Linked DNA regions of Homo sapiens. The protein of the gene in region 2 purifies or fractionates together with the protein of the main gene of each other region. This does not show direct contact. Each region holds a gene or a part of one and is shown on either strand. Other genes may lie near its edges.

Region 1 (3,814 bases), on a different chromosome or scaffold from region 2:
TGAGTCATATATAGTAATTTGGTGATTTATTATGATATTTAACAAAATAAGTTAAAATTTCGATCAGTTGACAACATCCTTGTGGGAAGAAGAGATGGAAATAATGACATTAGTATATAAAGCTCAGATTTGGAAATTTATTCAGACTCTACTGAATAGCTGTGTACTTGTTTTTTATTTCCTCTTCATTTACCTGTGAGTGATAAGTCTATATTTTTCTCTCCCTTTCTAGTTATGTTGGATATTTTAAGTTATCAATTTTTGTTTGTTTGTTTGGGAGCCCAAAGAGTGGTAATTACTTAACCAGTCTTTGCTTCAGTTTCCTTACCTTTAAAATAATACTATTAGGAATGTGTTAATACATTTATAAACCTGAAAGGAATGCAGATGCCTACTACTGCTAACTATCTTTCCACCCTCTTCCTTTCTTTATGTTAAAACCTCCCTCTTTTTTGTCTAAACCTGCCTCCTAAGAATTTCCCGATCTAGTGGAATTGCAGAAAGACATTTTAAGTGTCTATTGAATTTTTCACTGGTTAACTTTGTCAGTTTTTTAAAACTTAATGGTTCTGACATTTAAATGATTAATGACGTTACTTTAGTCTTAGGAAAGCTGGTTCTAAACGTTTGCATAATATAGCTAGCTACTCTACTCCTTTTTAGTATTCCCACCTCTTTTTATATACTAGATTACTTGTCATCAGTAAATGTAATGCGTAGTTTATTTCTACGTGATGTAATTTTTTTCTCTTGTTACACAGGCTGCTTTTGTCAGAGACGTTTTATTACCGGGAGAATGGGATGTATGTGTAACATCTTATGAAATGCTTATTAAAGAGAAGTCTGTGTTCAAAAAATTTAATTGGAGATACTTAGTAATAGATGAAGCTCACAGGATCAAAAATGAAAAATCTAAGGTAATTTGATACTTAGATGTGAAAAGCCTTCATGTAAGAATTTGATTAAAGTACAGATTTTTTTTTCTTTTAACTTTAAGTTATGAGATACATGTGCAGAACGTGCAGGTTTGTTAACATAGGTATGCATGTGCCATGGTGGTTTGCTGCACCCCATCATCTAGGTTTTAAGCCCCGCATGCATTAGGTATTTGTCCTAATGCTCTCCCTCTGCTTTCTCCCCACTCCCCGACAGGTCCTGGCATGTGGTGTTCCCCTCCCTGTGTCCATGTGTTCTCATTGTTCAACTCCCACTTATGAGTGAGAACATGTAGTGTTTGGTTTTCTGTTCCTGTGTTAGTTTACTGAGAATGATGGCTTCCAGCTTCATCCATGTCCTTGCAGAGGATATAAACTCATTCTCTTTTATGGCTGCGTACTATTCGCTGATGTATATGTGCCATATTTTCTTTAACCGGTCTATCATTGTTGGGCATTTGTGTTGGTTCCAGGTCTTTGCTGTTGTAGATAATGCAATATGCAGAATATTCTAATGGTGTATTTGGTTCTTTTCTTTCAGTTGTCAGAAATAGTGAGGGAATTCAAGACTACAAATAGACTATTATTAACTGGAACACCTCTTCAGAACAACTTGCATGAGCTGTGGTCACTTCTTAACTTTCTGTTGCCAGATGTGTTTAATTCAGCAGATGTAAGTATTTCCTGGTGCTTTCTGGTTAATAATAATATTTTGCTTAATGCTATATATTTTTGTAATAAAAGTGGCCTGCCTTTTAGCATGGCTTGAGGTTATTATTAATTTTTTATGCTTTTATTTACATAGTTAGCCTGGTGTTATCTCCTAGGTTGTCTCTGTATAATGGGAATTTACTTTTGTGCCTTTGGTTTCAATCTTATTTCATTATTATTATTATTATTTTATTTTTTTTGAGACGTAGTCTCACTCTGTCACCTATGCTGAAGTGCAGTGGTGTGATCTTGGCTCACTGCAGCCTCCACCTCCGGAATTCAGGTGATTCTTGTGCCTCAGCCTTCCGAATAGCTGAGATCACAGGTGTGTGCCACCATGCCCGGCTAGTTTCTGTGTTTTTTGTAGAGATGAGGTTTTGCCATGTTGTCCAGGCTGGTCTCAAGCTCCTGGCCTCAAGCGATCTGCCTGCCTCAGCCTCCCAAAGTGCTGGGATTACAGGCACGAGCCACCACACCAGGCCTCAGTCTTCTTTAAATCATTGTTTTCTCTATCTGAAATGGCATAAATTGTCACTCCTATTTGGTAAGTCAGGTTGGCCTGACTTTGTTTCAGTGGCTCTAGGTTGACTGGTTATGTTTTTAAGGTGCTGCTCAAGGTATTCCTGAAGTGATTTGTATACCTCACATTGCTTATGTTTTAAGTCCCAAGGATGACTGTCAAATTTAGTGAAATCTGTCTGGCTTTTCTTATATTATAGTCTAACAAACAAATAGAACCTAATCTTTATGGATTATTTATAGTCATAGAAAGGATAGTAATGGTTAATTAGCTATTTGAACTGTTAATAGTAATATAATAACTATGTCAAGAGTTTGTGCTATTAGAAATTGCAGTTTTTTTTGCCTGGACCAGTGTTTATTTTTGAAGCTTTGTTTGCATAGCTGGCGTCTTATGTGTATTGGAGGGATTTGAAGAGCTCCATGTTAGTATATTTTTGTACAATTAAGTTATAAAAAGGTATTAATTAATTTTGTTTTTTTTCTGTTGAAGATTGTTTTGAAAGAATAGATTGTGTTGTAAAAAGATATTTAATCAGACTCCAAAAGCAATTTTAGCTTCGATTTTATGTATTTTGATGTTTTTGAGATAATTCCTGTTTCTCACTACATTGACACTTTCATTTACTTTAAAGCAGTGAATTCTAAGATTATGTTTACTCAAAAACAAAGCACATATATAATACATATGTTCAAGAGATGAGGTTAGGGAAACTGCCCTTGTTGAAATCGTAACCAAATATTAATGAAATGCTGGTAATTTCAATTTCATTTAGTAAGTTTGATTAAAATTGACATTGTTCGTAAACTTGTATTTGAGTAGTGCGAATGGTCTCAGAGAACAAACTATAAAATGTTTTAATTTTCAAGCTTTTATGAAACTTGAAAGATACTTTACAAGAATATTAATTTTCTAATCCTATAGAACTTGCTCTCCAACTTTTTACTGTGAAACTTGTTATTTTGATGTTTTTGAGAAGAATGTTTAGAAGGTAGTGTGATTTCTGAACTACTTGTTTTAAAATTAGTAACAATGACACATGAAAACCAGGATTGGACTAAGTGATTTTTTTTTGTGGGTTACAATTCAAATTACTAATTCTAGAAATCATTTCTATATCTGGTATTATAGGGTATTTGTTAATATTATCTCTGATCTGAGTATATTTTTTGTTTGTTTATCTAGGACTTTGATTCCTGGTTTGATACAAACAACTGCCTTGGGGATCAAAAACTAGTTGAGAGGCTTCATATGGTAAGTATTTTGGAGTAGTGTTAAAGCATATTTATGATGGGAAAAAGGATAAAGGTTTAAATTAGTAGATTATTTTCCTGTTAATAAAAAACACAATGGCTTAAGAATCAGATCTGCTTGAATTCTGACACTTAACTCTTACATCTTACAATCAGTGTAGGGGGTGATGTGTGGTTGTTTCAGTGTTAGAACCTAGAATGGAATCCTGACTTAAGGGAGAAAGTATTCTCTTACAGTTATACAAAATACAGTGGGGGGAAGAAGAATTGCATAATAATTAATATAGACAAGTTTTTGTTGTTGTTTTTGAGACAGTCTCACTTTGTCGTCCAGGCTGGAGTGCAGTGGCATGATCTTGGCTCACTGAAACCTCTGCCTCCCAGGCTCAAGCAGT
Region 2 (3,814 bases):
CCCCAGAAAACTCCTACTCATCCTCCAAAACCCTGCTCAGATGCCCCTCTTCCAGGAAGCCTTCCAGAAAGAGCTCTGCTCCCCACCCAGGGTTCCCTAAGCCACACCCATCTCTCTGTCTCAGCCCTAACCACCCAGGCTGTAGGTCTTTTCACGATTGGCAAGGGACAGCTATGTCCTCAGCATCTCTGGGCATGGGGAGGGCATTTGTGATGGCTTTCCAGGGAGTGAGGGTGCAGACTGGAGTGGCCCAGGCAGGGTTGGGGTCAGGAGGGCAACGGGAAGGAGACCCCCCAAGTGCTTGGGGAGTGAGGTGGGTGGCCGGGCTGGGCTGGGCCAGGCCTGCTCTCTGCCTCTCCTCTGCTTTCTTTTCCTCCTTAGCACTGGTCACAACCTTCCTGGCTATGCCTGCCTAATCGTGTTAGGAACCTACGTCTTACTAATCATATTATGCTCATGATCTGTCTCCCCTAGAGAAGGTCAGTACCACAAGGGCTGGGCTTGGGGGGTTTTTGCTCACAGCGGTATTCCCAGTGCCTTCTCCAGTGCAATTTCTCGGTGCCTGTTTGTAGAGTCAATGAATGGATGCACGTGTGCATGAGCAAAGGGGTCCAGGCCCCCAGGAGGTACAGTCAAAATTGGGGCCCCCTAGATCCAGGGATTAGAGAAAACAGGGACCCCAGGATGGGAGCCTGGAATAAAAATCCTAAAGTCACATGGGCCACCAGAGCGGGAGCAGCCCCCATTTAAGAGCCAGGCCCTGGCCGGGGGCCCTCAGACCTTTGTTCACTGAATGAGTAAGGGAGGGGTCCTTTCTCCCCGAGGCTCCTTCGTGGCCACTCTGGCCACAGCAGGGCTACCTCTCCAGCCTCACCCACCCTCCCACCCACCCGCCTCTGGCTGTCTCCACCTCTCTGTCACTGGAGCTGCACTCACCCAGGCTGAAGAGGATGATGAACTTGAGGCAGACAAACTCCTGCCGGTCCAGCTGCAGCGCAAGCAGCTGCAGCACCAGCTCCTGCGCCCGCAACACCAGGCTGTGCAGCAGCGAGCCCGCCTGGGTGGCCACTGTGGTCAGCTCCACCTGGGGGCAGAGGGCACGGGGCGGGGGACAGTCAGAGGACGTGGGTCCGGGCAGGTGGCTCTCTGATGGGGGATGCAGGGCTGAGGGCATGGATTGGAGGTGCAGGTCAGATGGGCTGGCGTCAGGAGGGCCCAGCCTTGGTGCCGAGCCAGGCACGGGTAACATCTGCACAGCCCCGGGGACGCTGCCGGGCCCACCCTTCCGAGCTCTCCTCAACCCGCCAAGCCCGGAGCTGAGGCACCCACGTTCTGCCCGCGTCCACCCCTCCTTCACACACAAACCCCAGCACCAGGCCCAGCAGCACCAGCAGCTCAGGGGGCCCCTCTACATGCTGGGAGGGGAGGGGTTGGGGAGGGCAGGCCTGTGTGGGGACACACAGACACATCCACATGGCTTCCCAGAGCCCCCATGTTCACACCTACACGCTGGGTCACAGCTCAGCTCAGAGTCACACACACACACACACGAGCACAGTCATGGGGTCGCCCACTCTGTGAAGTGAAGGCACACACGTGTGCACACGGCCACACCCGCCCTTGTACGCTCACACTCACGGCAACACATACACCCATGTATGTGATCACATTTACGGGTTGATGGGAAGACAGTGACACCCACACACTGATGTGTGTGGAGATTTTGCACAATAAAACACAGGCAGGCACACACACACACACACACAAACAGGCATTCCCATGGCCACAGAGACTCAGCCAGCCTGCGGACACCCACACTTCATGCAGACTGCAGGCACCTGCGCTCACAGGGAGCCCCAAAGACACCCCCCTGGGACCAGTGCTGCCCGTCCCGTCCTCCTGCCCCGATGGCCTGTGACACCGAGGAGAGAGCTGGAGATGAGCAGTGGGGGCCTGGGAGGGCTGGAGCTGGGAGCAGAGTCTGTCTTCCCCACCCCACAGCACCCACCGACCCCACGGCCCTTCCTGTGTCCCCACCTGAGAGTGGCACTCCTGCCAGCAGGCTGGACCCTGGCCATCAACCCCCTTCTCTGCCTCCCCCCCTCCCTCTCTTTCCCTACAGCCCATCTCTCCAGGTGAGTCTTCCTCCGTGGCTGTGCCCCCGTGTCCCCACCCTGGCCCCCCACCTCCCATCCTGACCCCTCCGCCTGCCTCCTCAGATACCACCTGGCCATGTCCCTCCTCCTCCTAAAGCTCTCCCCGGACCCCTGCTGCATCTGGACTTTCTACTCCCCAGATCCTCATTCCCTGCTCTAAGGGGGCCCAAATTCCGACTCTGAGCTCTCTGGAGCCCTTTGCCCATTCATTCATTCATTCATTCATTCGAGATTTAGGGCCTGCAAGGTTTGCCTGCTAAGCCAGCACTAGCAACCCCCTAGCCTCCCTCATCTCTCACCTCATGCCACCCCCACACCGGCACCAGCAGGGCCCGGGGGCTCCACACTTCCACCCTCTCTGAGCCTGCGGTAGACGTGGGGACTGCCCCCCTCATCCCTCATTCCCCAGCCAACTCCAGTGTGTTATTTCCAGACCCAGGGCCACCATCACCTCCTCCTCCATGAGCCTCTCCTCACCATGCCCACACCCCCTGAGCTGCTCCCCAAGAGCAGGGCTCCCAGGGGCCGGCGCCTCTCAAGCCTGGGCCAGGGCTGCTCACAGAGGGTTTGGGCCAGTGGGTGTTCCATGAACGTGGGGAAAGGGCTGATAATTAGGGTGCCCAGAGCCAGCCCCGAGAGGCCTGGGTCCTCCTCTCCGGGGCCCTGAATCCTGGAAGTGCACAGCGGGGCCAGGGCGGGGCCCAGGGGCGGGGCCGAGGGACTGGTCACCTCCTGCCCGGTGACCAGCAGGATGCTGCCCTCCTTGCCGTGCTGGACCTGGCGGTAGATGTGGTCGAACACCAGCAGCTCGCTCCAGCAGTTCTGCAGCAGCGTCATCTGGTCGGCCACCTGGAAGGAAGAGGCACGCGGGGGGCCGGGCTCCAGCCAGGGTCCAGGGACCTTCCTCTCACCCCTTCTCCTCCCACTGAGACCCAACTAGGCGTGCAGCCTGGGCAAGCTAACCTCTCTGTGCCCATCTACCCAGATGTCTAGGCTATCAAAGTGCAACAGAGGTCTGGCCAGTTAACAAAGGGATGTTTGGGGGTTGAATGGGCCAGGCTTCAGGCCCCACCTCTGTCTTTTGTATGACTTTACGTAAGTCCTGGTAACCTTTCTGTGCCTCAGTTTTCTCATCTGTAAAGTGGGCAAAGTACTGAGCGGACAGTCCAGTACATGTTAGGTATGCCATACATGTTAGTGACTAATGTCCATGCAGGTGCTCTGCAAAGGACTCCTACAAATGCCTGGCAAGGTTATTATTAATTTTAACCTTGTCCACATTTAAAAGCCTGTGGTCGGTCACACCTCTGGCAGCCCCAACTGCTCAAACAGGAGCCATGAGGGAGAAACCAAGGGCTTCCCCCCCGGGCCTACGCAGAGCTCTCAGGCTCAGGAGGAGGAGGGAGGTCCCACCTGGCCTGAGGTCAGGCCCAGGGCATGAGCAGGGGGGCGGCAATGGCCTGGCACATGAAGCAGAAACGAACAGCAACAAGGGGCTGATTCCGAATGCCCAGGCTGCGGCCAGAGACACTCGGTGCAGGGGCAGGGCCAGCCCCTGTTTGGAGTGTCCTTTGACTCTGCAGGACTCAGAAGCAGAGCCAGGGATCCCCTGGCCCCAATCCCTATTTTTCAGCTGAGGAATCCGCCACCCGGAAAGG

Evidence for each region.
Region 1: the proteins of NR5A1 (region 2) and SMARCA5 purify together in Homo sapiens (co-immunoprecipitation; one study listed by IntAct). This does not show direct contact.

The regions. Positions count from the first base shown.
Region 1 is NC_000004.12:143,527,107-143,530,920, forward strand, and holds part of SMARCA5 (SWI/SNF-related matrix-associated actin-dependent regulator of chromatin subfamily A member 5), read left to right. Parts: intron 1-761; coding exon 762-917; intron 918-1,476; coding exon 1,477-1,608; intron 1,609-3,351; coding exon 3,352-3,420; intron 3,421-3,814. UniProt on the Homo sapiens protein: ATPase that possesses intrinsic ATP-dependent nucleosome-remodeling activity.
Region 2 is NC_000009.12:124,490,145-124,493,958, forward strand, and holds part of NR5A1 (steroidogenic factor 1), read right to left. Parts: intron 3,006-3,814; coding exon 2,886-3,005; intron 1,085-2,885; coding exon 937-1,084; intron 1-936. UniProt on the Homo sapiens protein: Transcriptional activator. Essential for sexual differentiation and formation of the primary steroidogenic tissues. Binds to the Ad4 site found in the promoter region of steroidogenic P450 genes such as CYP11A, CYP11B and CYP21B.